Homo sapiens: one gene and its partners. The protein of the gene in region 1 interacts with the protein of each later gene in a biochemical or structural test. Each region holds a gene or a part of one and is shown in the gene's direction. Other genes may lie near its edges.

What was found.
Region 2: the proteins of SHANK1 (region 1) and KCNJ9 interact in a test that uses a peptide from one of them, tested with the Homo sapiens proteins (one large-scale study listed by IntAct).
Region 3: the proteins of SHANK1 (region 1) and AMOTL1 interact in a test that uses a peptide from one of them, tested with the Homo sapiens proteins (one large-scale study listed by IntAct).
Region 4: the proteins of SHANK1 (region 1) and FLVCR1 interact in a test that uses a peptide from one of them, tested with the Homo sapiens proteins (one large-scale study listed by IntAct).
Region 5: the proteins of SHANK1 (region 1) and MUC3A interact in a test that uses a peptide from one of them, tested with the Homo sapiens proteins (one large-scale study listed by IntAct).
Region 6: the proteins of SHANK1 (region 1) and SMCHD1 interact in a test that uses a peptide from one of them, tested with the Homo sapiens proteins (one large-scale study listed by IntAct).
Region 7: the proteins of SHANK1 (region 1) and ATP2B1 interact in a test that uses a peptide from one of them, tested with the Homo sapiens proteins (one large-scale study listed by IntAct).

The regions. Positions count from the first base shown.
Region 1 is NC_000019.10:50,709,041-50,713,525, reverse strand, and holds part of SHANK1 (SH3 and multiple ankyrin repeat domains protein 1), read left to right. Parts: intron 1-1,411; coding exon 1,412-1,579; intron 1,580-2,038; coding exon 2,039-2,155; intron 2,156-4,485. UniProt on the Homo sapiens protein: Seems to be an adapter protein in the postsynaptic density (PSD) of excitatory synapses that interconnects receptors of the postsynaptic membrane including NMDA-type and metabotropic glutamate receptors via complexes with GKAP/PSD-95 and Homer, respectively, and the actin-based cytoskeleton.
Region 2 is NC_000001.11:160,087,157-160,091,404, forward strand, and holds the end of KCNJ9 (G protein-activated inward rectifier potassium channel 3), read left to right. Parts: intron 1-329; coding exon 330-661; 3' UTR 662-3,407; downstream 3,408-4,248. UniProt on the Homo sapiens protein: Inward rectifier potassium channels are characterized by a greater tendency to allow potassium to flow into the cell rather than out of it.
Region 3 is NC_000011.10:94,865,001-94,869,485, forward strand, and holds part of AMOTL1 (angiomotin-like protein 1), read left to right. Parts: intron 1-941; coding exon 942-1,168; intron 1,169-4,197; coding exon 4,198-4,473; intron 4,474-4,485. UniProt on the Homo sapiens protein: Inhibits the Wnt/beta-catenin signaling pathway, probably by recruiting CTNNB1 to recycling endosomes and hence preventing its translocation to the nucleus.
Region 4 is NC_000001.11:212,895,937-212,900,510, forward strand, and holds the end of FLVCR1 (choline/ethanolamine transporter FLVCR1), read left to right. Parts: 3' UTR 1-3,427; downstream 3,428-4,574.
Region 5 is NC_000007.14:100,952,131-100,956,615, forward strand, and holds part of MUC3A (mucin-3A precursor), read left to right. Parts: coding exon 1-4,485.
Region 6 is NC_000018.10:2,700,726-2,705,210, forward strand, and holds part of SMCHD1 (structural maintenance of chromosomes flexible hinge domain-containing protein 1), read left to right. Parts: intron 1-9; coding exon 10-193; intron 194-2,966; coding exon 2,967-3,161; intron 3,162-4,485. UniProt on the Homo sapiens protein: Non-canonical member of the structural maintenance of chromosomes (SMC) protein family that plays a key role in epigenetic silencing by regulating chromatin architecture.
Region 7 is NC_000012.12:89,617,576-89,622,060, reverse strand, and holds part of ATP2B1 (plasma membrane calcium-transporting ATPase 1), read left to right. Parts: intron 1-269; coding exon 270-512; intron 513-1,820; coding exon 1,821-2,062; intron 2,063-4,485. UniProt on the Homo sapiens protein: Catalyzes the hydrolysis of ATP coupled with the transport of calcium from the cytoplasm to the extracellular space thereby maintaining intracellular calcium homeostasis.

The DNA.
Region 1 (4,485 bases):
GCTTAATACCAAATCTGCCTCTGTCTCCCCAAGGTGTAAACCCTTCTCATTCCTTAAAATACGAAGTGAGCTCCCTGCTATGCCCCCAGATAGAGCCCCTCCACACACACCCTGAAAACAGCCCCCCAGCTACCCTTCCAAACCAGCACTGCACCAGCTCCCCTCCCTCCTCTCTCACATGCAAATACAGCCCCTTCCCCACGTACACAGCCTCAAATGCACTTTCCCAAATAGACAAACCCATACACCCACAAAATACATACACAGCGGCAGCTGCACAGTCTAATTTTAAAATACTCTTCTCCCCCTGCCCCCGCCAGGACACCTGATTGCTCTTCACATGAGGGTCAGGATGGGCTGCCCCCAAAGACAGCCATTGAGAAGCACCCCGACGCACAGCTGCTCCAGCTAAACGGCCCCTCCCTTCTCTCCCTCAGATGCTTTCCTGAAGAGCCCCTAATGCAGTCAGATGCCAGCCACAAAGATCTGCAGTATACCCCTGGAGTTAACAGATCCTCTTCATGTATCTCCCATGCACACTCACCCCCAAACCCACATCCTGCTCACACACGCCCCTCCCAGCCTCCAGACCTGCGCTATCCAAGCCAGTAGCCACTGGCCACCTGGGGCTGTTTAAATTTAAATTAAATAGAATGAAGTAAAATTAAAATTTCAGTTCCTCAGGCTCACTAGCCACGTTCAAGTGCTCAGGGGCCCACACGTGCCTGCCATATAGGGTGGTGCAGTTGCAGACCATCCCCATGATGGGGGAAACGTTCTGTTGGGTGGCACTGCTACAGGCTGTCCTCACACGAGGTTGCTGCCAAGACTTTCTCCTATTAATGTTCATTATTGCCAGCCTTCCACACCCAGAGCTGTCCTTCAAGTGGGGGCAGGAAGTGGCCTCCAGCCCCAGTGAGGCCGGCCCGATCCTTGCCCTTACCCAAGCTTACCTGTCCCCTGGCTTCCTGCTGTGCCCCTTCTTTGAGATCCTGGACCTAATAACACCTCCCACTTGGTCAGAGACCCTCCAGCATCCAGACTCTGTCCTCTCACTTGTCCCCAACAACCCACCTGTAGGAAGTGGAATGGGTGGGTACTGTGGCCCCTAATGTCTTTCAATGGCTCATCCAAGATCGCCCCCAGGGGGAAGGCTGGGTGGGATGTCAGAGTGCAAGTGTCCTCTGGAGGCATCTACCCAAGTCCCACATTGTTCACACGGAATCAGAGTGGCCCAGGGAGGGAAAGGGCCAGGCTCAAGGTTGCACAAGGGCATCACGGCAGAACTGAGACTGTCATTGGCCACTGTAGGTCACCCAGGACGGTCCAGTCCCCCTGGCCCTTCAGAATGAGCTGGTTAATGTGTGACTGTCATCTGTGTTTTTCTACTGGGTTCTCTCTCCGTTCCTAGGCGCTCCTGGACCTTGGGGGTTCCCCCAACTACAAGGACCGTCGGGGGCTGACCCCTCTGTTCCACACGGCCATGGTGGGTGGTGACCCCCGATGCTGCGAGCTGCTCCTGTTCAACAGGGCCCAGCTGGGCATAGCTGATGAGAACGGCTGGCAGGAAATCCACCAGGTGCTCCTGATTCAGGCCATGAAGGGCTGGGGTGGGGGACCCAGTCCCTGAGGCATCCAAGGGGCTGGGGCTGGGAACCAGATGCCAGGGTCCTCACAGAGCATGGGGGTGAGAATAACATGGTCCCCAAAGAGGAAATGGTGGGGGTGAAGGCAGAAAGACCCTAAGGGGGCATAGGCTGGGGAACCTGATGCCTTGACCCCTGAGAGGGATGGGCTGTCCTCTTGACCCCCTTAAGGAGGCAGACCAGACGCCTGGGCCTTGGAATGACTGAACATTTGGGTTTTGAGGCTGACAGCCTGGGTCCCAGAGCAGGAAGCGGGGCTAAAAGGTGATGGGGAGGTGGATGCGGTGAACGATAGGATGAGAAGGCCAGTGCACAGGTCATAGACAGACTCTTGGCCCAGAGGGAGAACAGCCTGGGTCTGATCCATGCCCCTCGCTCCCTGTCCTGCCCAGGCCTGCCAGCGGGGTCACTCTCAGCACCTGGAGCATCTGCTTTTCTACGGGGCTGAGCCTGGAGCCCAGAACGCCTCGGGGAACACGGCTCTGCACATCTGCGCCCTCTACAACAAGGTCTGCCTAGCAGCGGCCACCCCAGGCCCCTCACATCCCCGATAGCCGCCTCCCCCAGGGCCAAGCTCAGACACTCCTCTTGACTGCATCTCTGCACCCTCCACTTCTTCACTATTTCCACCCTTTCATCCAGTCATTCCTCCATTCATTCCTCCATCCATCCATCCATCCATCCATCCATCCATCCAACAGATATTTACTGAGCTCCTCTGTATCAGGCCTGGAGCTGGGTGCTGGGGACAAAGTGTTGAGCTCATGGCCTAGCAGAGGGCAGACAACATAGTTTGCTGCTACAGTCCAGAGTGCTCAGAGCAAAGTCACAGGGAATCCAGATCCCTGCGGGAGCCCACATCTGGGACTGGGCTTGGGATGGAGTGGCTGGGGGTGAAGGTGGCTTCCTGGAGGAGGTGCCCCCAGTGTTAAGATGAGCAGGAGTAGAAAAGAGGAGAAAGGGGTGCTCCAGGGTGGGGGCACAGCCTGTGCAGAAAGCCAGAGGAAAGGGGGCTGTGGGTCCTCAGTTCCCCTGTGTCTGCATTCAGCCAGTGGTGTGTGCAGGTGCCACGTGGCGGCACGGCAGGGCACAGGGGAAAGGCCAACGTGCAGCCCCCGTGGCCCCTGAAGGGAATGACAGTGGGATGGGAGTTTTAGCAATTCAGGACCTTGGGGGTCCTGACAACCTGGGTCCCTGAGCAGGAAGGGAGTGCTGAAGGGAGATGGGAAGAACACCCCCACTTCTGGAGTTCCTAGGAGAGGAGAGGTACGGAGCAGGCAGGGGGGCTCGTGGCAGCTGGTTGGCAAGAGCCGGGTCTTTCAATGTCATGACCTCTGGTACTTTAGCCACCTGAGCTGCAGATGATCCTGGGCAGGTCAGCCCCATGGAAAGCCTCAATCTCCCCACCTGTTTCTTGATGCTTCCTGCCCTTGAAGGGCAGCTGGTGGGGGTACTTAGAGAGACAGGCGCTAGCATGACAGAGCTGGTCTGTCAGCCCCCTTCCTCCAGGAAGTCTTCCAAAACAGCCCTCAGCCCCCTCTGCCTCGGCAGAACTTGCAGTGCTGGGGATTTGGCGGGTGGCCACGTGCCGCCTTGTGGCAGCCAGCAGTATGCCTGGAGCCCAGGGAAGACTCAGTGTTTGTCAAACCGAACCAACATGGTGCCGGCACTTCTCTCCCCACGTGCTCCTGTCTCCTGCTCTGCGACACAGGCCTCACAACCAATCCTCTGACTCCCAGGCCCTCGTGCAGCTGATGGGGAAGAAGCCCTGGCCCCACAGGCAGATGGGGGTGGGGAGCAAACAAGTCCCTCCCCCTCTTTGAGGCTCCATCCTTCTTCCTGAAATGGGAATAACGCCAGCTCTTATTGACGAGGGTGAGCCATCGTGTATACTAAGTGCTCATCCCTGGAAGGCAGCCATCAGAATAATAATTGTCATTGTTACCATCACCAGTGTCAGTCAGGGTCCAGTCGAGAGACAGAAACTGTACCGTTCAGATAAACAGAGAAATTTTGGTATAGAGAATTAGACCAGGCACGGTGGCTCATGCCTGTAATCCCAACACTTTGGGAGGCTAAGGCAGGAGGATGGCTTGAGCCCAGGAGTTCGAGACCAGCCTGGGCAACGTGGGAAAACCTGGTCTCTATGAAAAAATACAAAAATTAGCTGGGCACAGTGGCATGCACCTGAAGTCCCAGCTGCTCGGGCAGCTGAGGCAGAAGGATTGCTTGAGCCTGGGAGGTGGAGGCTGCAGTGAGCTATGATCATGCCACTGCACTCCAGCCTGGGTGACAGAGTGAGACCCTGCCTTAAAAAAAAAAATTAGAATTAGACAGCAGGCAGAGTTTTCTTAGTGGGACAGTTGCACAAGTCATTTTCCCCTCCTTGATCTCCTTTCTCAGCTGTGAAATGGGTCAATAATTAATATCTACCATGCAGGCCGGGCGCAGTGGCTCACGCCTGTAATTCCAGCACTTTGGGAGGCCGAGGCGGGCGGATCACTAGGTCAGGAGATTGAGACCATCCTGGCTAACACGCTGAAATCCCGTCTCTACTAAAAATGCAAAAAAAAGTTAGCCAGGCGTGGTGGCGGGCGCCTGTAGTCCCAGCTACTCGGGAGGCTGAGACAGGAGAATGGCGTGAACCCGGGAGGCGGAGTTTGCAGTGAGCCAAGATCATGCCACTGCACTCCAGCCTGGGTGATAGAGCGAGACTCCGTCTCAAAAAAATAAATAAATAAATATCTACCATGCAAAAGGATCAAGTGGGTTAATAGGTTTGCTTGCCTTTGCCATGGGCTTAACAAACCGATGCATAACACATACGAACTTGATTCCT
Region 2 (4,248 bases), on another chromosome or scaffold:
CCTTTGGGGAGCCCTGTATGGAGTGAGAAGTTGGACTAGAGGATCCCTAAGGTTAGTTTCAAGGTTAAGCTTTTTTTGGTTGGCATCACCAAATGACAGGAGGGGAAAAAAGAGCTGGACATTAAGAGGAGTTGGGGCAAATGGAGAAGACACGAGGGAGCTGGGTAAGAACAGGAGCTAGGGAGGGGGGGAAATGGACTGGACCAAAGGGAGGTGGGAGCCCTTAGGAAGGAATAGAAGGGAGGGTGCTGGGAGTAGGGTTGTGGAATGAGAAGAGGAGAGGGAAGCCTGGAGCTGAGATTCCCCCTGACCGGTGCCCCTCCTCCCAGGAATGACATGCCAAGCTCGGAGCTCCTACCTGGTAGACGAGGTGCTGTGGGGCCACCGCTTCACGTCAGTGCTGACTCTGGAGGACGGCTTCTACGAAGTGGACTATGCCAGCTTTCACGAGACTTTTGAGGTGCCCACACCTTCGTGCAGTGCTCGAGAGCTGGCAGAGGCTGCCGCCCGCCTTGATGCCCATCTCTACTGGTCCATCCCCAGCCGGCTGGATGAGAAGGTGGAGGAGGAGGGGGCGGGGGAGGGGGCGGGTGGGGAAGCTGGGGCTGACAAGGAGCAGAATGGCTGCCTGCCACCCCCAGAGAGTGAGTCCAAGGTGTGACCAGCTTCCTCCAGACCCCTGTGGCAGACCGGGGGCCAGACACAGATACATGGGGAACTGCATATCGGAGGTGGTGGAGGAGGAGGAGGAGGAGGAAGGCAAAGCCCCTGGAAATGTGCTAAAGTTGGAAAGTCCCCGTCCCCCAGAACCTCAAGTCTAGAAACCAGTATGGAAGGGAGGGGTCCTGATTTCAGGGAAATGGAGGGTGGGGCCGGGTGAAAATGCCAGTCTGTGTTTGACCTTCACATTTGTTCATGAGTGGATGGATGGACAGAATGATGGACTTTTGGGGGTTGGATGGGAAGATGGTAGCAGATAAAGACAGCTGACAGATACATAGATGGACCAGTAGACAACTGGTCCACTCAGGGCTGCCACTAACCTGTAGAACACCCCTGTGCAAATTTTAAAAAGGAACCCTTTTCCTCCAGACAGATACAGCCCCAAACCAGGGTGCATGGCTTGGGGAGCAGAGTATAGGATGGATTGCAGTCCCCAGTCACCTCTTCTGCCAGCCTCCCCACATATGGCACAACTGTCTAATGACACGGTAGGCCAAGCTGAAGTGAAGGAGAAAGGAGCCGGACCAAGATGGGCACATGAGGAGGGTGCCCTCCTAGCTCCACCCTCACCAGGATGAAGGCGTGCAAGGGGCTCAGCAAGGTGTGAATGACCTTAGTCCGCAAGTTCAGGGAAGCAGGCAGAGCGGGGAGGTGCCTGAGCTGGGGCCTGGAGAGGGGCCTGGGAAAGGAAAACCAGGGATAGCTATTTTCTTACAGTGGAGTGAGATCTTACAGGTATCAGGCACAGGCAGGAAGAGAGAGAGAGAGGTTCTGGGGAGGAAGGGCCAGGAGAGAGATCTAGAAAGTGGGTTCACTAGAGCTGGGAAACAGGGAGCCCCTAGGAAAGCAGTGTGTCCTTGGGGCACAGTCATTCACATCACTGATTGGGTGCCATGTGGAGTGGACATTCAAAAACCTGGTTCCTGTCCTCAAAATAAGGGGCACCTGGGAAAACAGAGGAATCTACCTGTGGTGACTGAACGAGGGATAATTCAAACTGACAACCTGTGCAGTCCCGTGGAGGGTAGGGGAGTGTGGGTGATCAGAAGGCTGGGGCCAGTGTAAGGCATAGGGAATATGTAAGTCAGGAGTTAGAAATCTCCAGTGTGCGTTGGAATCACCTGGAGGGCTTGGTAAAACACAGATTTTTGGGCTCCACTCCAAGGGTTTCTGACCCAAGAGGTGGGGACCAAAACCATGCATTCCTAAGAAGTCCCCAGGTCATGCTGCTGTTGCTGGACTGAGGACCACACTTTGAGAACCTGTGCTCTAAGTGAATACTTGGAAGTCGTTTCAGGACATGGGGCATAGAAACTGAGGAGTAGCTGAGAGGAAGATGAAGAGAAGCTGAGAAGAAGCTGAGGATCCTCACAGGAGCAGACAGAGAAATGTGAAGGGTGGGGTTTTATGTGTGGGAAAGGGACCCGAAGCCCAGGCTGAAGAGTTTAACTTTGGGCCCAGAAACTCAACCATCAATGGAAACAGGGCAGTGACAAGTGGAGGGGGTGTCTGGAAGCTGAGCAGGCCCGACAGAGAGATGAAGCCATCAGAAGGACTTGAGGGGGCTCCTGGGGAGGTCGGGGGGAGGTGGAGCAGGAAGAGTTTTAGGGGCAAAGGACAGAACCCCTTGTAGGACTGGAGGCAAGATTGAATGTGGGAGAAAATCGGAGAGAAGCGATAGGAGTTAGAACATCTGGATGTGTCTGCAGCCTGCTGTCAGCCCAATTGGGCCAGGGGGTCCCAAAGACGCATATTCTCACCCCACCTCCACCTGCTTCCTGATCACATCCCAGTCACCAGCGGCAGCTTCCTGGATAGTGAGGGAGAACAACTGCAAGTTGAGAGAGGCAGAGGGGTGGAAGGGACCTGAAGCTGGCCTGGAGAAAAGCATAGGCCCAGGAGAGCCTGCCCTGGGACAGCGCCTGTCTCCCACACAGCAGCACTGGCCCAGCAAGGACCTCCTCCCTTGGCCCTGGCCACATCCCACTCCTGCCCTTTCATAAGCCCCCTGGGGAAAGCACTCCAGTCTTCTCTGTTCCAGGCTGGGCAGATAGGGTCCTATGGGGCACAGCCAGGGTCCTATGGGCATAGCCAGGGCCCTATGGGTCCTCTGGAAGCAAGAAAGGGGGCCATGGAAGCAGCCCAGACAGCTGGGGTTCACTCAGAGAGGACCCAAGTCCCAGTCCCTTCCTTTCAGTCAAAACACGGATATCTTTGCCTCAGGTCACAGGGCCACTGGGGCCCTGTCATCAAAGATGAGATTCCTGAAGCCTGGCATTGACTGGTCCCCTAAGAACAGATGTTGGGATGGAGAATGGGGATTCATTTGGGTTTCAGTAAAACAGGGGGGTCTGGACAAGAGCGGGTGGGCTACTTGGTATCCACACACACGCACTCACACAGGAGCCAACCCATTGCAGCTGAACAAGCAGAGAAACTCAGTCTGGAAAGGCCCCTCCTGCCTGCTGAAGTCACTGAGACCCTGCCACACCTCTCCTCGCCACTGTCACCACTCAGGGCACCACTGTACAGTGCAACAAGTCAGGAGACCTAGGTCCTACTCCTGACACTTGCTAATTAGCTCTATGACTCTGGGCAAATCGCATATCTGGGCCTCAGTTTCCTCATCTGTAAAAATGACAGCAAACTCGTAATGCTCAATAAATGTTTAAATAACAACTGAAGGAGGCCTGCCAGATGCCTCTTAAGGTGCCGTGCAGGTAAGAATTTTAGGATCAGAGAATCCTTAGGCAAGAAAATTCATGAAACTCCTGGGGCACTGGAGGAGGGGTGAAGCTGAAGGGTGGGAGGGAGGAGACCCCAGGGTAGGTACAGGCAGGTGAAGCGGGTATATGCAGGTGTAGTGGGTATATGCGGGTAGAGGGTATATGCAGGTACAGCGAGTACATGTGGGTGCAATGGCTCTGTGGACACACAGGCCCTCCCCTGACTGCCTGTTGTCCCAGCCTGAGTATCAGTTGTGTTCTGAGGCTTCTATTCTGCTGCTATGGGTCAGAAGGAACAACAATTTCAGCCCCAGGGCCTAGTGGGAGGAGTCAGGTCCAAGACTAGCCTGACCAGGAGAATGAGACGTGGGAAGAGTTGGGGAAAGTCTGGGAAGCTCAGAAAAGGCACTGCCCCTGGAGGCCCATGCCCTTTAACATGGGAGAAGCTGGTGCGGGGGTGACCACAGGCAGCTGGAACCTACCCTCCTTTTCTATGCTTCCCTCCCCAAGTAGGAGTCCAATCAGGAGTTGTCTCAGCCCCGACAGTTCAGGCTGCAGATGGAACCCAGGTGTCCCCTCCTGGGGTGGGTGGCATGGCCCATGGAGGCCAGATGGTGTTTGTGGTGGGAAGAGAGGCCTGGGTCATCCAGAATAGGTTGTCAATCCCCAACCACCTCCCTACTATGCACCCTGAGCGTTTTACAGTCTCATGGTAGGGAAGACACAGCCAAGCCTGCTTTTTATAAAACAAGTTTATTCACATTTTAGAAAAACTAATTCCAGGACAGGAAATGGCCTC
Region 3 (4,485 bases), on another chromosome or scaffold:
GGAGAGAAGGAAAAGGTTCCAACCTAAGCACGTGGTTCCACTCAGCAATGGATCTGGTGCCGGAGTTCTCTGGGGGAAATTGCGTGTCACCTGCCGGTTTTAAGATGCAGGCTGAGTCTAGTGACAGAAGAATTTAGATGTCTGTGTTATTTCTTGGTGTCTATCTCTATGACATTATGAGCTGAAAGGGGGAAACATTATATCCCAAAGATTCAGAGTTTTTGAGCCAGAATTTATATATTCCAGTCCAAAATAAAGAACATATTTAGCTAATGCACTCTTCTGATGGGCTACACAAAATTTCCAGCAGACTTTTTGACATAATAAAACTAGCCTGTCCCCCTTCACTACCTAAGGGCTTGTGGAACCCTGGGAGCCCTAGGCCTCTTATTTTGCAGATGTGAAAATAGGGCTGAGTAGTTGAGCCATTGATAGATAGGCTCAGTGAGTTACTATCAAAGTTGTGAAAATAACTCAGCATTCTTCCAGAAAAATCATCTTCTACCAGAGAACCTGTTCATCTTGGTTCTTTTTTCTTAGAAAATAGAGAAATTGACTTTAGCTGAAAGCTCACCCTGTTTGAGGCTTTAGAGTTTTTATGCTTCCCTATCCCCTACCTACCCCCGGCCCCCACCGCCAATGCTAGACCCTCTAAATATGGTCCCCAGCCGACTTCGGTCCAGGAATGTGGCCACGGTCATTCTAACTGTACCTCGCTGAAGTCCCAGTCTCCCAAGGTGCCAGAGAAGGTGTACTCTTTTGACATATGACAAAAGACCTGTCTTAACAATTTGGAGATTATCAACATTTGAAGACTCGTACTGTGCTTCATCCTGTATCCCTAAATTACAATTAAAGTCTTTGGGACAGCCTGAGATAAATGTTTCAAGTTTTTCTAGCCAAGTGGCTTTTTATGGAGACTGTTTTGTTTTGTTTTACAGTATTAAAAATCTCCATGCCAAAATCATAGAGAAAGATGCTATGATTAAGGTCCTGCAGCAGCGATCTCGTAAAGATGCCGGGAAGACAGACTCCTCCAGCCTACGTCCTGCCCGCTCCGTTCCATCCATAGCAGCAGCTACTGGGACACACTCTCGCCAGACCTCTCTTACCAGCAGCCAGCTGGCTGAGGAAAAGAAGGAAGAGAAGACCTGGAAGGGGAGCATAGGTGAGCCCCACACCTCTGTCAGACCATGATTGGAAAAGCAAGACCAGACAGCTTCTCTGCCACTCATGGGACACGGAAATGTCCCTGAATAGTTCCTGGTCTCAGTTTACTCATCTGTGAAGTGGGGAGGGAAATCAGTCATACTTCAGTTATAGATATGTGGAAGCATTGTGTAAATTCTAAAGACTGCACCACTGGAGTAGCTCTTAGCCATGGGTTGACTCAGATCAGAATTATCTATTATTGTTGTAAGTTGAGGTGACCCTTATAACACAAAAGGCTCTCATAGAAAAGCCTAGAGACATCACGCCTCTGAACTTGGCTCTGCTCTAGACCAGTTGTATGACGGCTCCACCTCTGCTTCCACGTCTGGAAAGGGAGGACAGTGTCTGCCTGCTTTACCCCATGGGGAGTGGGAGGGAATAATGGGATAATGGGGGGAGGAGAGTGTCTGCCTGCTTTACCCCATGGGGCGTGGGAGGGAAGAATGGGATAATGGTGGGAGGAGAGTGTCTGCCTGCTTTACCCCATGGGGCGTGGGAGGGAAGAATGGGATAATGGGGGGAGGACAGTGTCTGCCTGCTTTACCCCATGGGGCGTGGGAGGGAAGAATGGGATAATGGGGAGAGCACATTGGAAGAAGTGCTCTCTCGCATAAGGTAGGGGTGGTAAGTTTTTGCTGTATTGTTGTTGCATGGGCAGAATTCCCTAAGTGTGGTCTTAGCCAGGAGTAGGTTTCTTGGGGGCAGGCAGGCTTGTTGGCTGGCTGGGCTAGCCAAGCTGGAGGGGAAGCAGGCAGCGTGCTCAGACACAGGTCCTCCACATCCTTCCCCTGCACTCTGGCCTCTCCAGGGGTCTGGCCCTTCTTTGATGCATTTCCCCACATCAGATCGTGTTTTTGTTTCTCTGTGCAGCTGAGAGCCAGTGGTCCTCAGCATAAGACCCCAAAGGAGACTGGCTGCTCTGGGCCAGAGGGGATAAGAGCTTCCATATGAACCCGACAGAGTTGGGGGGATCAAAGGCTCCCAACCAGAATCTGTGTTTGAAGTCCCTCCACTGGTGGCTTCAGCAGCCCCTGCCCCCAAAGGAAATGCACTTCAAAGAAGACGTGTGTGGACAGCAGCTGAGATCATCAAAGACTGTCCCAAGGACATTTAGCTCCCACCCCAGCTAGAGAGCTGGGAGGCAGTGCTGAGCCAGGCCTGGTCAAGGAGTTTGAAAATTTGCTCAGCTCTGGTAGCAACCTCCCTGGGAGTCCCCTGTTTGTGACGTGCAGCCAGGCAGGCATCTCTGGTGTCTGTGCCCGTATGCCCCAGGACCTGGCATGTCTAAACCAGGCCTGGGAGCCGGAGGACTTGTTTGAAGGAAGAGCTGCTGTGTTCCCTGCACTGATATTCCTCCTCATTGTTGTCATTGGTGTCCACGTGTCACAAACACAGGGACTCTCCAAGGGGCTGAGGCAGGTTCATGGGTGACTGCACAGTTCCCCACATGTTGTCACCATTGCTTGCCTGATAGGCTCTGGAAGGAGGTGGAGGTGACAGCATATACCTTCCCAATTGCCCAGGGTATCCCAGGAGCTATGGCTGGCTAGTGACTTATTCAGCCTGTCACTCCCTACGAGGACATCCTGCAGACTCTGGAGTTTCCACAGGCTGGGCGATGAAGTGGAAAGAACATAGGTTGGACTCCAAGTCAGGCACAGTTGGGTTTGAGTCCCATTTCTGCTGCTTCTTAGCTGTGAGATGTTAGTTTTTGTGAGCTTCCATTTCCTTCTCCGTAAGACAGGATAAGGCCTGTCTCGCAGGAATGACATGCAGTATGAAGTGAGATGATGTGGGAAGCGCAGGTGAAGGCCTTTGCTGCTCAGCGTGGTCTGTGGACCAGTGGCACCAGCACCATCTGGGAGCTTCTTAGAAATACAGAATCCCAGGCCCTGCCTGCTGGATCAGGTCTTCCTTTTAACGGTATAGCCAAGTCATTGTTATGCACATTGCATTTTGAAAAGCACTGCTCTCGACAAACTGAACTGCCCTGAGTTCTAAATGGGCACCTTAAAACAGCTCTGGCGAGGATACTTTATGAATTGCTGGCTATCTAACCAGATAAGAGAACAAATACTTGATTGCGCTTACCGCCTTTTCTATAGGCTAGCATTCTAGGGTGCTGGCACTTTCCCGCGTGTGTGCTGTATTTAAAAATAAAAAGTTATCCTCCCACCCAGCTTTCCAGGAAGGCTCTGAGGAAAATGGACACCTCTGCACACCACGCCTCCCATTTCCATAGCCAGCATCCCCTCTTCCCCACCCCAGCCTCACTACTCTTGAGGAAGGGGGTAAGGAGAGGGCTAAGTGGCCTTTCCTAGGAGGCTGGCTGGCTTTCTGCTTCTGGGAGGCTACAGTTCCACCGCAGAAATGTGCAGGTAGCATGTTTATCTTTGAATCCAAGCCTGTGGGGGACCATCATCCATTACAAGGAGTGGGGTGGAATTGTGAACTATTCAGAAGAGCAGCAAGCCAATGGGAACATGTCTAGGACCGGGGAAGCCTTGTAGTTTTTCTTAAGCACACTGCCACGCTTCAGGCCAGCCCTTCTGGGCCACGTTGGTAACAGCAAGCATGGTCTCTGGAAAGCCTTGTGGGAACCTCCCTACCCCTCCTGCTGGCAATTAGGCACTTCTCTGTTCGTCCATACCACCCTGTGAATAATTTATTTGTATCCTACAGTTTATATATTAAGTTATAATCAGTTTACTTGACAACTACTTCTCCACTCCAAAAAAAAAAAACAAAAAAAACACACAAAAAAAACCTACAATTTTTTAGGAAGGGGACTAGGTCTTCCATTTTTTATTCTCTCAGTGTTTGTTATTTTATCAGCCTTGTAATAAGTGTTTATTAAATGCTTGGGGAATGAATCAATGAATGAATGAAGCAATCATCAATCAACAAGGAACAGATCTGCAAGACTAGATTTAAAAAAAAAAAAAGGAAAAAAAGAATGTTGAAAAATCTGTTCTCTGCCCTCAGGATTGCTGCTGGGGAAGGAGCACCATGAGCATGCCTCTGCCCCACTGCTGCCACCCCCACCCACCTCAGCACTGTCCTCCATAGCCTCCACTACGGCAGCCAGCAGTGCCCACGCCAAGACAGGCAGCAAGGACAGCAGCACACAGACTGACAAGAGTGCCGAGCTCTTCTGGCCCAGCATGGCCTCCCTTCCCAGCCGCGGCCGGCTGAGCACGACCCCTGCTCACAGCCCCGTCCTGAAACACCCAGCGGCCAAAGGGACCGCAGAGAAACTGGGTATGTGGGCTA
Region 4 (4,574 bases), on another chromosome or scaffold:
CTGTGTACAGATTCTACCCAGACTTTGGTCTTAGAATTATGTTCTAATTAAGGAGCCTGGTTACAGGTTCATTCTGTCTTGAGTTCTTTTCTGTGCTGCCTTTCTATCATGGATAAATGCTAACGCTGTATTTTTTCACTCCAACTTGAGATAGAGTAGTTTTGTACCCATTGCCTTTTTTTTCTTTTAAACTCTCTTTTTTTTTTTTTCCTGATGTGTAACTTTCTAGTAAGATAATTTCATCATGTATGTTACTGGCTATTTCATGATTTCATGTATCACATCGTATATTTTGCCTTGAAGATTCCTGAAATAAGGAAATCTATAATAACTTCAGATAGCCTACATGTCCCCATTTAGTGGAGACCTCTTGAATGCTATTTGAATTCTGCAGTATCATTTTTATGACCATTCTCCTTTGAGGAATACTATGCCCAGGTACATGCTCTATCAGTGTGCCGGGAGAGTGGATTCTTTTCTTCACTGCAGAGTCATCACACTGTTAGAATAGTCTGCTCTTTTACATGCTCAGGTAGGGAAAATAGGACCAAATATATTTCCACAGTGCCTACCACTGTGTCATGTTTACAGTGAGAGTTTAAATATTGTTGATGTCCTGACTCTGTGAGCTCATAGGGAGTATCTTCATAGTAATGACATTTGATCAGCCATAAAATTTACATTATGTTCATATGCACCCAAAAAAGCTAGTCAGGTAATGAATACCCTTGAAGTGAATAGCAATTTTGATTTAGGCAGTGTGTTAGGCCATCCTTGCATTGCTATAAAGAAATATTTAGGCTGGGCGTGGTGGCTCACGCCTGTAATCCCAGCACTTTGGGAGGCTGAAGCGTGTGGATCACCTGAGGTCAGGAGTTCAAGACCAGCCTGGCCAACATGGTAAAACCCCATCTCTACTAAAAAAAAAAAAAAAAAAAAAAAAAAAAAAAAAGGCCAGGCGCAGTGCTGTGGCTCATGCCTGTAATCTCAGCACTTTGGGAGGCCAAGGCAGGTGGATCACAAAGTCAGGAGTTCAAAACCAGCCTGGCCAAGATGGTGAAACCCCATCTCTACTAAAAATACAAAAATTAGCGCAGTGGCAGGCGCCTGTAATCCCAGCTACTCAGGAGGCTGAGGCAGGAGAATCGCTTGAATGCGAATGGCAGAGGTTGCAGTGAGCGAAAATCACACTACTGCACTCCAGCCTGGGAGATAAAGTGAGACTGTCTCAAATAAATAAATAAATAAATAAATAAATAAATAAATAAATAAATAAAACCTGAGGTTGAGCACGATGGCTCACACCTATAGTCCCAGCACTTTGGGAGGCTGAGGTGGGTGGATCATTTGAGGCCAGGAGTTGAAGACCAGTCTGGCCAACATGGCAAAACCCCATCTCTACTAAAAATACATACACACACACACACACACACAAATTAGCCGGGCATGGTGGCACACGCCTGTAGTCCCAGCTTCTTGGGAAGCTGAGGCATGAGAATTGCCTGAACCTGGAAGGCGGAGGCTACAGTGAGCTGAGATTGCGCCACTGCACTCCAGCCTGGGTGACAGAGCGAGACTCTGTTTCAGGAAAAAAAGAACAGAAATACCTGAGACTGGGTAATTTATAAATAAAAGAGGTTTAAGTGGCTCACAGTTCTGCAGGCTGTGTAAGCATGGCACCAGTGTCTGCTCGGCTTCTGGGGAGCCCTCAGGGAGCTTTACTCATGGTGAAAGGCTAAGTGGGAGCAGAGATGTCACATGGCGAAGCAGGAGCAAGAGAGCAGGGAGGTGCCACACACCTTCAAACAACCAGATTTTGTGAAAACTCACTCATTACTGCAAGGACAGCACCAAGCCATGAGGGATCCACCCGCAGGACCCAAACACCTTCTATTAGGGCCAACCTTCAACATTGGGGATTACATTTCAATGTGAGATTGGAGGGACAAGTATCCCAACTATATCAGGCAGAATATATGCATTGATATATATTGAAATTATAACATTCTCTATAATCAAGTGACTGTAAATTATGTCGAATCTGACCCTGGGGAATGTGTTATCTAAAGAATTTGACTAAGAATCAGGAACTCTGTGTCCATGTCCTGGATGTATTTCTGTATGTTCCTATAACTCTGGACAAATCATTAAACCTCTCTGGGCAGCGTTTTCCTCATCCATGAAATGAATGTGTTCAATTTGATCTCAAAGATCTTTCCAAAATATTAAATGCCATTAATCATGGAATAGACCAAATTATTGTATCACAGGAACTTGAATCCAGCCAGAGAAAAATTCCCTGGACAATTGGATAAACAAATGTGATTGCTACCTTATGGATACAACGGACTTTTACATTTCTTTTTAGCCTTTTTAGTCAGTTGAGGGTAACTCAAGCAGAGTATGTCCAATCATTAGCTTCCTTTGATATTTACATTACAGGTAAAAACGGCCAAAAATATATTTTAAGGTCTCTCCCCAAATGTTTTTATTTTTAAACTATCAATGTTGTTTAAAATAATCATGTACTTGTTGAGTTCCTGAGGTTTGGAACAAATTACACATAAAATTTAGAATACTTTATTTCTGAAAAGCATATACATATATGTTATGTTTATTTTTCCTTGTTGATTAGAAAGGTGATGGAATATGTGACAATGCAAAATGAATTGATAATTTTTCTGTATTTTGAGTGAAAGTTGTCTGTAATATGTCAAGCAAGAATGTTATAATTCTACAGTAATGTGTGACTTCATGACAGAGCTACATTCTGAGAAATTTGTCATTAGGTGATTTCATCATTGTGTGAACATCATGAAGTGTACTTACACAAACCTAGGTGGTAGAGCCTACTGCACACCTGGGCTAGATGGCAAAGTCTGTCGCTTCTGGGCTACAGACCTGTACAGCATGGTACTGTATTGAATACTGTAGGCAACTGTAACACAATGGTATCTGTGTAATCTAAACATAGAACAGATAATACATTGTGCTACAATGTAACAATGGCTGTGGCATCACTAGGTGATAGGAATTTTTCAGTTCCATTATAATCTTATAGGATCTCTGTCATATGTGGTCAATTGTTGATCGAAACATGACTGTATGTCGTATTTTCAGAAAATGGAATAGGTAATCATCACTTGTGTGAATTTTAATCAAATGACTTAGGAAAGAAACTGGATGTTTCAAAAGCTGTTGCATTTATTACAAATGTCACAAATACAGCTCTTGCCTTTTGAGAATGTTGGAGAGATGTCTTTAAAAAATATGTTTGTGTGTAAAAATGTGTCTGTATGCAATAGCTAGAAAAATGCCTGTGTCTTAAGTCATTACTCATGTTCTAATTTTTGTTCTTTGTACTATTTATCTGTATGCTTGTTCTTCAGTATTTCAGACTCAAAATAAATTTATTTTTTTATGTTAATTTTCTGTGACTTTTTGAAAAATTCTGATGCTTAGGTACACATGGGGAGTTTAAAGGGATTATAAAATTTCAGAATGGGCAAAGAGGGAATGAGGTAGTGCATGGAACATAAAATGAGGAAACAAAGTCTACCAGGGTCAGGGCTAAAATAGATACTAAAATATTTTATTCCTTTAAAAGTAACTTTAGAGAGTGATGTTAGCAAGATGGCAGAATAGGAGCTTTATATCATCATTCTTCCACAGAAGCATTGATTTTTACCAGTACTTTCAGATGGTAGTTCTTTTGTAGGAATCCAGAAGTCCTACGTGGAAGTTCCAGCACACCATTGGAGCAGAAATATCTGAGAATAAATGCATTAAAGAAAAGGAAGAAGAAGATTTTCACTTTATCTGCATCACTCTTTGAAGTTGGCACAGCTTAGTGGCAAGAGAGACTCCCCTCAGTCCACAATTTCTCCCATGGGAGAAGGTGATAGCATAGTGAGAGTGCTCAGCCCCTAGCTGTGTGGGATGCTGCCTAAGAACCCTACCTCTTTCTTGCTCCAATTAAAATATTGAGGTGACTGTCATAGCTAAGCGTTGGGAAAGGCTGGGAGCAGGGAAGAAAGGCTCTGAAACCTACTCAGCACTCCACAGACTCCATCAGGAAGCCTCACCAGCCACTGGGATACCTTGCATATGGACCTCCCACATGACCCATGGCCACCCCAAATTCTCTGTGCACCTCACCCCCATCTCCCTGAGGCTGGCTTCCCAAGCATGCCACATTGGATGGCAACTGCAAGCATCAAATATAGAGACAGATGGCTTGATTGTGGAATTGAAGCAAGGTACACAAACTTGAGTACTTCAGGACACCACCCCAGGGGAAACAAACAGGAAGCTGTCAGCACCTGGCCTGGCTTTGTGGGATTGAGATAAGGCATATAACTTTTAAGAATCCCCTGCTGCAAGTGGGAACAGGGGTTGTGGAGCAGGTGAATCCACAGGAAAGGTAGGAGAGAGCCTCAGAATTCCTAGCCAGGCAGATTGATGAAGGCATTTCTCTCCTGAAGCTAGTCAATAAAGACTGGAGGAAGTGATTTTCTTCAAATGCAAGGATGGAAATGGAAGACTTCAAGAAAACAAAAAATGGAAACATGATA
Region 5 (4,485 bases), on another chromosome or scaffold:
ACCGTGTTGGTCTATTCAGCCACCACTGAGTGCGTGTATCCAACGAGCTTTATAATCACCATCTCCCACCCCACCTCCATCTGTGTGACCACGACGCAGGTGGCCTTCACCAGCTCTTACACCTCGACTCCCGTGACACAGAAGCCAGTGACCACCGTCACCAGTACTTACTCTATGACCACTACTGAGAAAGGAACGTCAGCCATGACATCTTCTCCCTCTACCACCACTGCAAGGGAAACTCCCATAGTGACAGTGACACCCTCCTCTGTGTCAGCCACAGACACAACCTTCCACACTACAATCTCGTCTACAACTAGAACCACAGAAAGGACTCCCCTGCCCACTGGAAGCATCCATACAACCACGTCCCCAACCCCAGTATTTACTACTCTCAAAACAGCAGTGACTTCCACTTCCCCCATCACTTCTTCAATCACTTCCACAAATACAGTGACTTCTATGACAACGACCGCCTCCCAGCCCACAGCCACTAATACATTGTCATCACCCACTAGGACCATTTTATCTTCCACACCTGTCCTGAGCACAGAAACAATCACCAGTGGTATCACAAACACCACCCCCCTATCCACCTTGGTGACCACACTCCCCACTACCATCAGCAGGTCTACACCTACATCTGAGACCACCTACACTACTTCTCCCACCAGCACTGTCACAGACTCCACTACCAAAATCGCCTACTCCACAAGTATGACAGGTACATTGTCCACAGAGACTTCTCTCCCACCCACCTCTTCCTCTCTCCCAACCACAGAAACAGCCACGACTCCTATGACAAACTTGGTAACCACCACCACTGAGATCTCCTCCCACAGTACTCCCAGCTTCTCTTCATCAACCATCTACTCCACAGTCAGCACATCCACAACTGCCATCTCCTCACTTCCCCCTACCTCAGGTACTATGGTGACTTCCACAACCATGACCCCATCTTCTCTGAGTACAGACATCCCTTTCACAACACCAACAACTATCACCCACCATTCTGTGGGCTCTACCGGTTTCCTGACTACAGCAACAGACCTCACATCAACATTCACGGTTTCCAGTTCCTCAGCAATGTCCACGAGTGTCATTCCATCTTCCCCCAGCATTCAGAATACAGAAACCTCATCCCTTGTCAGCATGACCTCTGCCACTACTCCCAATGTGAGACCAACTTTTGTAAGTACACTCAGCACTCCTACAAGTTCCCTCCTGACGACCTTCCCAGCAACATATTCATTTTCATCTTCCATGTCTGCCAGCAGTGCTGGGACCACTCACACAGAGAGTATCTCCTCACCTCCAGCCAGCACCAGTACACTCCACACAACAGCTGAATCCACCCTGGCACCCACTACCACCACCTCATTCACAACTTCCACAACTATGGAACCACCTTCAACCACTGCAGCAACTACAGGAACAGGTCAGACCACCTTCACCAGCTCTACAGCCACATTTCCTGAGACCACCACACCGACTCCTACAACTGACATGTCCACAGAATCTCTCACAACAGCCATGACTTCTCCTCCCATCACTTCATCAGTCACTTCCACAAATACAGTGACTTCTATGACAACTACGACCTCTCCTCCCACAACCACCAATTCTTTTACATCACTGACCAGTATGCCTCTGTCTTCTACACCTGTCCCAAGCACAGAAGTAGTCACCAGTGGCACCATAAACACAATCCCTCCATCTATCTTGGTGACCACACTCCCCACTCCAAATGCTTCATCTATGACTACATCTGAGACCACCTATCCTAATTCTCCGACTGGTCCTGGTACAAACTCCACGACGGAAATCACCTATCCCACCACTATGACAGAGACATCATCCACTGCCACCTCTCTTCCACCCACCTCTCCCTTGGTCTCAACTGCAAAAACAGCCAAAACTCCTACCACAAACTTGGTAACCACCACCACCAAGACCACCTCACATAGTACCACCAGCTTCACTTCTTCAACCGTCTACTCCACAGCCAGCACATACACAACTGCCATCACCTCAGTTCCCACTACGTTGGGTACCATGGTAACTTCTACATCCATGATCTCATCTACTGTGAGTACAGGTATCCCTACCTCACAACCAACAACCATCACTCCCTCATCCGTGGGCATCAGTGGTTCATTACCTATGATGACAGACCTCACCTCAGTGTACACAGTCTCTAACATGTCTGCAAGGCCAACAACTGTCATTCCCTCATCTCCCACTGTCCAGAATACAGAAATCTCAATCTCTGTTAGCATGACGTCTGCTACCACTCCCAGTGGAGGACCAACTTTCACAAGTACTGAGAACACTCCAACAAGGTCCCTCCTGACAAGCTTTCCAATGACACATTCATTCTCTTCTTCTATGTCTGAAAGTAGTGCTGGGACCACTCACACAGAGAGTATCTCCTCACCTCGAGGCACCACCAGTACACTCCACACAACAGTTGAATCCACCCCATCACCCACTACCACCACCTCATTTACCACATCCACAATGATGGAACCACCTTCATCCACTGTATCAACTACAGGCAGAGGTCAGACCACCTTTCCCAGCTCTACAGCCACATTCCCTGAGACCACTACACTGACTCCTACAACTGACATTTCTACAGTATCTCTCACAACAGCCATGACTTCTCCTCCCCCCGTCAGTTCTTCAATCACTCCCACCAATACAATGACTTCTATGAGAACTACAACCTATTGGCCCACAGCCACTAATACATTATCACCACTCACCAGTAGCATTTTATCTTCTACACCTGTCCCAAGCACAGAAATGATCACCAGTCATACCACAAACACCACCCCTCTATCCACCTTGGTGACTACACTCCTCACTACCATCACCAGATCTACACCTACATCTGAGACCACCTACCCTACTTCTCCCACCAGCATTGTCTCAGACTCCACGACTGAAATCACCTATTCCACAAGTATAACAGGTACATTGTCCACTGCCACTACTCTCCCACCCACCTCTTCCTCTCTCCCAACCACAGAAACAGCCACGATGACTCCTACCACAACCTTGATAACCACCACCCCTAATACCACCTCCCTTAGTACCCCCAGCTTCACTTCTTCAACCATCTACTCCACAGTCAGCACATCCACAACTGCCATCTCCTCAGCTTCCCCTACCTCAGGTACCATGGTAACTTCCACAACCATGACCCCATCTTCTCTGAGTACAGACACCCCTTCCACAACACCAACAACTATCACCTACCCTTCTGTGGGCTCTACCGGTTTCCTGACTACAGCAACAGACCTCACATCAACATTCACTGTTTCCAGTTCCTCAGCAATGTCCACAAGTGTCATTCCATCTTCCCCCAGCATCCAGAATACAGAAACCTCATCCCTTGTCAGCATGACCTCTGCCACCACTCCCAGTTTGAGACCAACTATCACAAGTACTGACAGCACTCTAACAAGTTCCCTCCTGACGACCTTCCCAAGTACATATTCATTTTCATCTTCCATGTCTGCCAGCAGTGCAGGGACCACTCACACAGAGACTATTTCCTCACTTCCAGCCAGCACCAATACAATCCACACAACAGCTGAATCCGCCCTGGCACCCACTACCACCACCTCATTCACCACATCCCCAACGATGGAACCACCTTCAACCACTGTAGCGACTACAGGCACAGGTCAGACCACCTTCCCCAGCTCTACAGCCACATTCCTTGAGACCACCACACTGACTCCTACAACTGACTTTTCTACAGAATCTCTCACAACAGCCATGACTTCTACTCCCCCCATCACTTCTTCAATCACTCCCACCGATACAATGACTTCTATGAGAACTACGACCTCTTGGCCCACAGCCACTAATACGTTATCACCACTCACCAGTAGCATTTTATCTTCTACACCTGTCCCAAGCACAGAGGTGACCACCAGTCATACCACAAACACCAATCCTGTATCCACGTTGGTGACTACACTCCCCATTACCATCACCAGGTCTACACTTACATCTGAGACCGCCTACCCTAGTTCTCCCACAAGCACTGTCACAGAGTCCACAACTGAAATCACCTATCCCACCACTATGACAGAGACATCATCTACTGCCACCTCTCTTCCACCCACCTCTTCCTTGGTCTCAACCGCAGAAACAGCCAAAACTCCTACCACAAACTTGGTAACCACCACCACCAAGACCACCTCACATAGTACCACCAGCTTCACTTCTTCAACCATCTACTCCACAGCCAGCACACCCACCACTGCCATCACCTCAGTTCCCACTACCTTGGGTACCATGGTGACTTCTACATCCATGATCCCATCTACTGTGAGTACAGGTATCCCTACCTCACAACCAACAACTATTACTCCCTCATCCGTGGGCATCAGTGGTTCATTACCTATGATGACAGACCTCACCTCAGTGTACACAGTCTCCAGCATGTCTGCAAGGCCAACAAGTGTC
Region 6 (4,485 bases), on another chromosome or scaffold:
CTGTTCAAGCTTTGACTGGTGTACTCCTCCTAAGAAGAGAGGGCTTGCACCAATTGAATGCTACAATAGGATATCTGGTGCATTATTCACTAATGACAAATTCCAGGTCAGCACAAATAAATTGACGTTTATGGATCTTGAGCTAAAATTGAAAGATAAGAACACCCTTTTTACAAGGATTTTAAATGGACAGGTATGATTTTTAAATATAAAGTTGTGAATATTTGCAAATGTTTTATTTTTAAGTAAAAGAAGACACTAGCAGTGTAGGTTTTTATTGATATTTTGCATCAAAAGACTATGATGTATAAATTTTTTTATGAGCAGTCAAGTGTTCACATTACTAAAAAATTTAAAGCTAATTTTTTAGTAATGACTAAACCTACCTAGTAAAGACTAGGTTTGGATAGAATTTACATATCTTCATTAGTTTTTTTTGTTTTTTTTTTTTTAAGACAGGAGTTTCACTCTGTTTCCCAGGCTGGATTGCAGTGGCTCAATCTCAGCTCACTGCAACCTCTGCCTCCCAGGTTCAAGCTATTCTCCCGCCTCAGCCTCCCAAATAACTGGGACTACAGGTGCGTGCCACCACGCCTGGCTAATTTTTGTATTTTTAGTAGAGATGGGGTTTCACCATGTTGGCCTGGCTGGTCTCGAACTCCTGACCTCAGGTGATCGACTTGCCTTGGTCTCCCAAAATGTTGGGATTACAGGCATGAGCCATCGCACCCAGCCAAGATCTTAATATCTAGCCCTTGACATAGTAGAAGCCACAGAAGCATCTTAATGAGAACATGTATGAACAATTGTATTTGCTTTAAGGGCTATATTTGTATATTAATAACCTAGTTGTGCAATTTTTAGCTAGTCTTGAGGGTAAAAATGGGGTAAAACTGTGAAGTACTTTGAGCTAAAAGGTGATTTGAGATTGATCAGTATTAAAATACATGTATTGATTAATACAACAAGAATGATTTCACTTTGAAATTTGTTACAAAGTTGAGTGAAACTAGTATACTAGTGTACTTGTATTCTGTGAACAGACCTCAGAGACTTTTGATACTACTCTTTCAGTAGTTTAATGTTGAATTGCCAAGAAATAGATGATTTTATTATCAATTTATTGCTGGGCAATAAATACAGTGCATAGTACATAGTATTTGTAGTCAGTCAGTCCTGTAAGATGTTGAAATTAATTTTGCTCTTATAAAGCTTGTGAATCATAGAAGATTAGGACACTTTTAAGAATTATACACCGAGAAAGACCTTATCAAAATGAGTTACTACTCCTTTATAATACACTTAGAATTCATTTATAATATGGTGTTAGTTATCCAACATTTATTGAGCAGTGGGTGTTTTCAAAAGCTATCCAGAATAAGTTAATTCTATTCCTTTGTTACACTGTACTTTTAAAATATATATTTTCTAATTTTGAAACATTCAAGCTGCGCATAATGGTTCACACCTGTAATCTTGGCTACTTGAGAGGCTGAGGCAGGAGGATGGCTTGAGGCCAGGAGTTCAAGACCAGCGTGTGCAATACAGTGAGACACCTTCTGTATTTAAAAAAAAAAAAAAAAGAAGGAAATGTTCAAATACACAGAAAAGTTGAAAGAATATTATAAAGTGAATATCTGCATACTTTTCCCCTAGGTTACCTGTCACCTTGACATGCCTTCTGAATTGTACTTTGACTGTTACTGAGTGTCTGGAATTAATGCATTTGGTAATTTGTTTGGTTGATAGTGAATCCATCCTGAGAGTTTTAGAAGGGTAGTTTAACATTTTGGTTGTCAGACTTTCTGGTTCCTAGTTACTAATTTAATCTCCATGTCAGCTGGCAAACTGACAACAATGATTTGCTGATTTGGGAAAGAGTTGGTACCTAGTTATAGGAGTAAGTGTGGCAGCAATTTCCCAGAAACTGTATACCATATTGGACCTGTGAGTCTTTACCATGTATATATATTTCCTTTTTCATTCATATAACTTTAAAAAAATCAAATTTATTAATAACTAAGATAGTATCCTTCTTGACAGCAAGCATCAAAAACTTAGGCTGAAATTATTTTTAATTTTGCCTTACTTTCCTTTGGAAATGGTATATTATGGTATAAGGTACGTAAGAAGGAATGGAGTTCTGTAACTTTACAGACTGTCCTCTGCGAAAGCATGTAATGGGGAGATTGTCTTACCTCCTCATTGCCCTAGAGGCAGGCATCAAACAAGTGTATAGCACCTTATGCTTGAATACAGATTTCTGTATTCTCTCCCAACAGGGTGAAGAATGGTTGGCAAAAACACATCTTCTTAAGTATTATTAGAAAACACTTCAGTTTTATGAGTTTATTTTTTGGATAGGCTCTATATATAAAAGAGAAAATTAAAAAGAAAAGTACATTTTGCATAGCAGTGTTTCTCAACCTTTTTTCGTTATCACCCTCATAAGGAGTCTTTCTTGGCATCTTTTTCTCAATTGTTTTCCCCAATGAAATTTTACTACTGCAGATTTACCATCTATCTGTTTGTATATTGTATTCACGTTTATAAAGTACTTGATACACAATGAGATTTTTATCGTCCCATTGAGAATGTGGTTTACAGTTAGAAGGCCTCCACTCATCCCTTTTGTGGAGCTAGCTAGTTCTCCTCCCAGGCAGTAAGGGTTCATCAGTTTTTAGTGTATCCTAGGAATTAAAGGCGGAAAGGAAGGTTTTATTGTTGATATTGACCAGGGATACCTTGGTTCTAAGAATAATATCAAATTTTTCTTCTTTGGTAATGCATTTGTTTGAAATATCCTAAATGTGTACAGAGGAAGGATCCAGCAGAATATTTAATTTTTTATTAGGTTTTCTGAATTGGAGTATATGAAAGGAAAAAAATAAAATGAATGACAAATGTTTATGGTTATATTTGTTTGCTAGTAGCTATATTTCATAAAACATTTTAAAATTCTACAGGAACAGCGAATGAAAATTGACAGAGAATTTGCTTTGTGGCTGAAGGACTGTCATGAGAAGTATGATAAACAAATAAAATTTACACTTTTTAAGGGAGTAATTACACGTCCTGATCTTCCTTCTAAAAAGCAAGGTCCCTGGGCAACATATGCAGCAATAGAATGGGATGGAAAGATATACAAAGCAGGACAGCTGGTAGGTTTAACTTATTGTCACTTTTTTCTTATAATTTTTAATTTAATTTAAAACACATATGCAGAATCACATGTATAGAAAATAAGCTATTTTTAAAAATTTCTTTTTTTCCCATTCTCACATTTCATGAAGAACATTTATTCAGACTCTTCACAGGCCTGTTTGACATCAGTGTCTTCCATCATCTCTAAGGAAATTTAACTTATTTTTAGATTCAATTTTTAGTAGAAGTTGAGACTAAATTAGATGTATTAAAATTTAACAACAGTAACAACAAATAATGCAAATATTGGCTCCTCAGGAGCTAGGTAAGAATGAAAAGGACAAACTGATTTTAAATTCCATAATTTATTATAGCATTAAAAAAACTATTGCCAGAGGCTCAATTAACAAGGTTTTTATGGTTTCCTAAACTAAACTTTACTCACATGGAGATCTCAGTGTTTTTTGTTTGTTTGTTTGTTTTTAATGTAATGCGTTAAGTAATGATTTTTAAGTATTTTTTTGTTGAGCATCTGCTGACATAGTAAGTTACTGCACCTTTTGACTGTGTGGTGGAGAATTCAGAGATATAGGAGATGTGCTTTGCTCTTGGTGATATTATATCCTAGCAATGGGGATAGTGTAAGCATAAATAATAGGTAAGAAGTGGATCAATGCAATGGAAAGAAAGGATTAATAGTGTTTTGGCAGGTTAGAAGGAGAGAAGAGGAGAGGATTTTTTTTTTTTTTTTTTACTTTGGTTGGTCGTGTGGGCTGGAAGAACAGAGCAGATCGTTAAATACTTTGGAAAAGAAGTAACATTTGTGTGGACCTTGAAAGGGGTAGAGGCTCAGGTTTACACAGATAATTACAAGGTAGAAGGCTCTCTGTTCTCTCCATAAATGAGAGATACCATCATATATTTAAAGCTATAGAATTGGATGAGATCATCTATACTTGGTGAGTATAGCTAAAGAGGTAAAAGGATTGAGCCTGGAGCTTTCCCAACATTTAGTGGTTAGAATGAAAAGGAGGAGCTGGCAGAGGAGACTGACAGGGATAAGCTGGTGAGACAGAAGGAAACTAGCAGAATGTGACATCCCTAGAGCCAAGTGAAGAGTTACAAGAAGAAAGGAGTGATCAGTTTAGTCAAATGCTTAGTGGTAATGGAGTAAAGTGCTTTCTAGAAGGTAATCTGAGCATAGAGATGTGCGTAGGTTAAGTGCAGAAAAACAGCAAGTAGTAAGAGTTGGGTTGTCCTGCTGCCTATTGTATGTGTGAAGAGAAATAGTTTAGAAATGGGGCAGGCAAGGTAGGTTGGGATAAACTCTTATAGTCCTTG
Region 7 (4,485 bases), on another chromosome or scaffold:
GTAGGTACCTGAATTGATTCACTAGGTTATGTTATGCAGCAATAAAATGATTGAAACCCCAGAAAGCTCTGGTACTGTGTTTAGCTTATTTTAATAGGTCAAATATGCTAAAAAAAAAAAAATTTCAGTATTACATTGGTACTTTATACATTGTATTTATAGAAAGCTGGGAGTTTTCTAATTTTAAAACAATTTATAATCATTTTAATGTAATGAGGTGATTGGTTTTATATGCAGCTTAACTAGTTTTTTTTTTTTGGTCACTGTAGAAAATGATGAAAGATAATAACTTAGTAAGGCATCTGGATGCTTGTGAAACCATGGGAAATGCTACAGCTATTTGTTCAGATAAAACAGGAACTTTGACAATGAACAGAATGACAGTCGTTCAAGCTTACATAAATGAAAAACATTATAAAAAGGTTCCTGAACCAGAAGCTATTCCACCAAATATTTTGTCCTATCTTGTAACAGGAATTTCTGTGAATTGTGCTTATACATCAAAAATATTGGTAAGGTTTTTGAAATAATTTATGAAAATTAATTTTTAAATCTATAATGATCAGACTATATGTAAGTCTTCAGACCACCATTACTGTATGTAAACTGAACTGTTAAGTTTTTAAAAGGCATATATTTATTTATATAATGGTTTTTAAATTTGTGTTATGAGTGAGGTCTGCTGATCAACATAAACATTGTTTGCTTACATTTTTCTCCTATATTTTGAATTTCCTGTGTTCAGAAACTCTCCAGCCTTATAACCAGAGCATGTATTTAATTTTAAATTCTTGTTAAGCTCATTTTTGAGAAAGATCAAACTGTCTTACTATAGGAGGTCAGCTCTCAACTTACAGAAAATTTTTAAGCCGATTTCAACTTAAAATAACATGTTTTATATATGGTTGCCATGTGTTCTGTTTGGTTTCTCAGTAGTTCCTACCTAAAAGGTGGTCCTTAGACCTTTTTAGAACTAATGCAGTAAAGTAATTCTAGACTTGTGCCACCATATAATAAAAAATTTTCAACTTACAAGTTTTAAAAATCTTATTTATAACAGAAAGAATGCGATGTTATGTTTGACTTAATCTCTTCTAGTGATTTATGGATGAAAATCATTAACAAAAATAATATTGCAAGCTGTTCATTAGGGAAAACATACATGAATTGGATGATTACATTGGAAAGTTATGGGATCTTGGTTCTAGATCTAGCTTTGCCTTTTACTAGCTGAAAGTCTGAGCTACCTTCTTTAATTACTGAGTAAAGATGATCACATCTGCCCTTAATACCATTGTGATAATTATGTAAAGTGGTATTTCTGAAGGCACTATGAAGGAATTGAAGCTTCTCACTGCATTTAAGAGAACAGTATTTTAATGAATGTACTTTTAAGCCATAAAAATTGGTAGATTTAATTTTGAATGATTTAGTATAAAAGTTAAGTGAAAACAGGAAAAGGAAATTAAAATTAAGTTCCACTCTGTATTAGGAACCAACTATAAACTTCATACATCTTATATCACTTAATTTTGGGGTCATAAGTGCTCCTATTTTACAGATGCTGAAGCCAAGGACCAAAGCAGTTGGGTAATTGTCAAATTTCACGTAGCTAGTAACTGGCAGGACTGAGATTAGAATCCATGTCATTCTCACCCCAGGCTCCTTTCTACCTTACTTTTCTATATCCTTCTTTAAAATGTTGATATTAGACAATTGCTTTGTAATTTTATTTTAGAATATCGCAGTCTGTTTTACATTATAAATTAAACGTTCTTAGAGAAACGAGATACTAGCTACTAAATGTTTTTCTCTTATAGCCACCAGAGAAAGAGGGTGGATTACCTCGTCACGTTGGTAATAAAACTGAATGTGCCTTGTTGGGACTTCTTTTGGATTTAAAACGGGATTATCAGGATGTTAGAAATGAAATACCAGAAGAAGCACTGTACAAAGTCTACACCTTCAATTCTGTTAGGAAGTCCATGAGTACTGTCCTGAAAAATTCAGATGGAAGTTATCGAATATTCAGCAAGGGTGCATCTGAGATAATTCTGAAAAAGTAAGAGTAAAATGCTTGGATGAATAAATTGCTGACTATAGTTGCTTTATGGAGTATCTACTGTGTTGTTATTGTTGTTGTCTTTTTGTGAACATCAGGCATTTGATAGGACCTCAGAGTTTTTTAGCATATTTTATGGTATCCAGATATTTGCCCCTGCTATTCTGCCATTTTCACACTCTAGCTTCTCTTATTTCTTAGCATTTTGTTATAGGGAAAATAAGCTCATTACATTCAATCTGGTATGTTTAATGAAGTATACTTTGATGTTTATTTTTAGAAGTCGATTTACTTGTTATTTAATATGCAGAATCTTGAAAAGCCTCCTGGGAAGAAAATCAAGTTTATGTCTTTCTTTCTTTCTTTTTTTTTTTTTTTTTATTTGTTTAAGGTGGAGTTTCCCTGTATCACCCAGGCTGGAGTGCAGTGGCGCGATCTCAGCTCACTTCACCCTCCGCCCCTGGGTTCAAGGGATTCTCCTGCCTCAGCCTCCCAAGTAACTGGGATTACAGGCACCTGCCACCACGCCTGGCTAATTTTTGTATTTTTAGTAGAGTCAGGGTTTCACCATGTTGGCCAGGCTGGTCTTGAACTCCTGACCTCAAGTAATCTGCCTGTGTCGGCCTCCCAAAGTGCTGGGATTACAGACGTGAGTCACTGCACCTGGCCTCAAGTTTAGATCTTCAACGCTCATTGTGGTTACTGGACTCTGAATGTGATAAGAGAATTATGAAGTAATTTTTAGAATAGCAAAGCATAAAAGCTGGATCTTGGAAATTCCCCATTTATATCAAAATGAGATTTATCATGTTTATGCTGCTGCAGTGTCGTATTTAAATATCTCCTGTCATTTTGAATACTAATTTTTCTTACTGTCCTTTTACAGATCAGTAGCTTTAATTTTGTTATTACATGTTCACATATAATTTCCCTGATGTTTATTTGTTATTAAAGGTGGTGAAATTATTTTAGTTTCTTTAATTTCATTAAAGAAGTAGAGAACTGGTTAAAAAAAAATACTGGTTAAGAGCAAGTTGGGAAAATTGGAACTCATTTGAAATTATAATATTTAAAATATTAAAGTAAATGTTTAAGATATACTTTTAATTTGCTTACATGTGGATTATAAGCCAGTATTAATGAACACTTTACAATTAGTTTAAGAGACAAATATATAAATAAATAACTGAAGGCAGCATATAATAAATTGGTACAAAGTTTTTGGGTGAGAGATCACACTGTAGGGATGTGGCATTTAAGATAGATTTTGGTATGAAATGAGAACTTCGAGGTGGGGAAACCACAGCAGAGGAAAGGAGATGAGAATATGCAGGTCATACTGGGGAGGGGAATATCTGGTTGTATAGTTCAGCTGAATAGTGATGGGCTTTTGTGGCACACAGGCCATATACAGCTTTCTTCTTGCCACAGTACACTCAGTTACCTGATTTCATTGAAAAGGTTAGAAATCTGTTTCAACCCTGGCTTGCTGGGTAGTAGATAGATGGTTTAGGAGAGAATTTTTTTTAGTCAAAACTGATCAGGCATTGACTCTTTCTCTGCAACTAACTAGCTTCTGGATATGGGGCAGATTTTTCCCTTACTTCCATTTTTCTCATCTGAGAAAGCGGGTGATGACCACCAACTCTGTGGCACTTAAATGAAGTAATGCATACCAACTGTCTAGTGTGAAGCCTGGTGGACAGTAAACATACAGCAAGTGTTCCCACAGTAATATTTGCATTTTGTTGTGGAGACTTTTTAAATGTTGGGCTGAGCAGTTAAAATTGAAGTAAGCCAGATAATGCAAATGAGGTATTTTTTTCTTCAAGTAGTAGAATCATCAAAGCTGTGATTAAAGATAATTCTTGCATCAGGGAACAAGGTGGGTTAGAGGGAAAAAAAAAATCAACTAGAGACATATCAGTTAAAAGGCTATTGCTATTACAATAGCTGTAGCTTTGTAGCTTGAAGTAAGAACCAGAAGAAAGTAGTAGCAGGAGAAATAAAAAGGAGTGGACACATTGAGGAGGCTGTTCAGAGGAGAAATGTATAGGACTTAGGAGCTAATAGTAGAGAGATGATCAGGAAAAATAAGTATTAAGGTGAAATTTTAGACTTACATCAAAATGATTAGGGTAATGTTGATGCACATTACATGGGCAGTGAAGAGGCAGCTTCCAGTCTTTCATCCATTAAGGTTTAGGTACTGATAAAACATCTGGGTAGAATTTTTCAGCAGTGATGGAAAGCTTTGAAAAACAAAACAGAAGATGTGGATTTGGGAATTACCTCCCTAGAAGCAGGAAGAGATGGCATCATCAAGGGAGAGGAGTATAGAGAGGCATTATGAAAAACAAACTTTAAATAGGTATATAGTATGATTTTTATTCATTATGTAATGAAAGAAAAGGTAGTAGTGT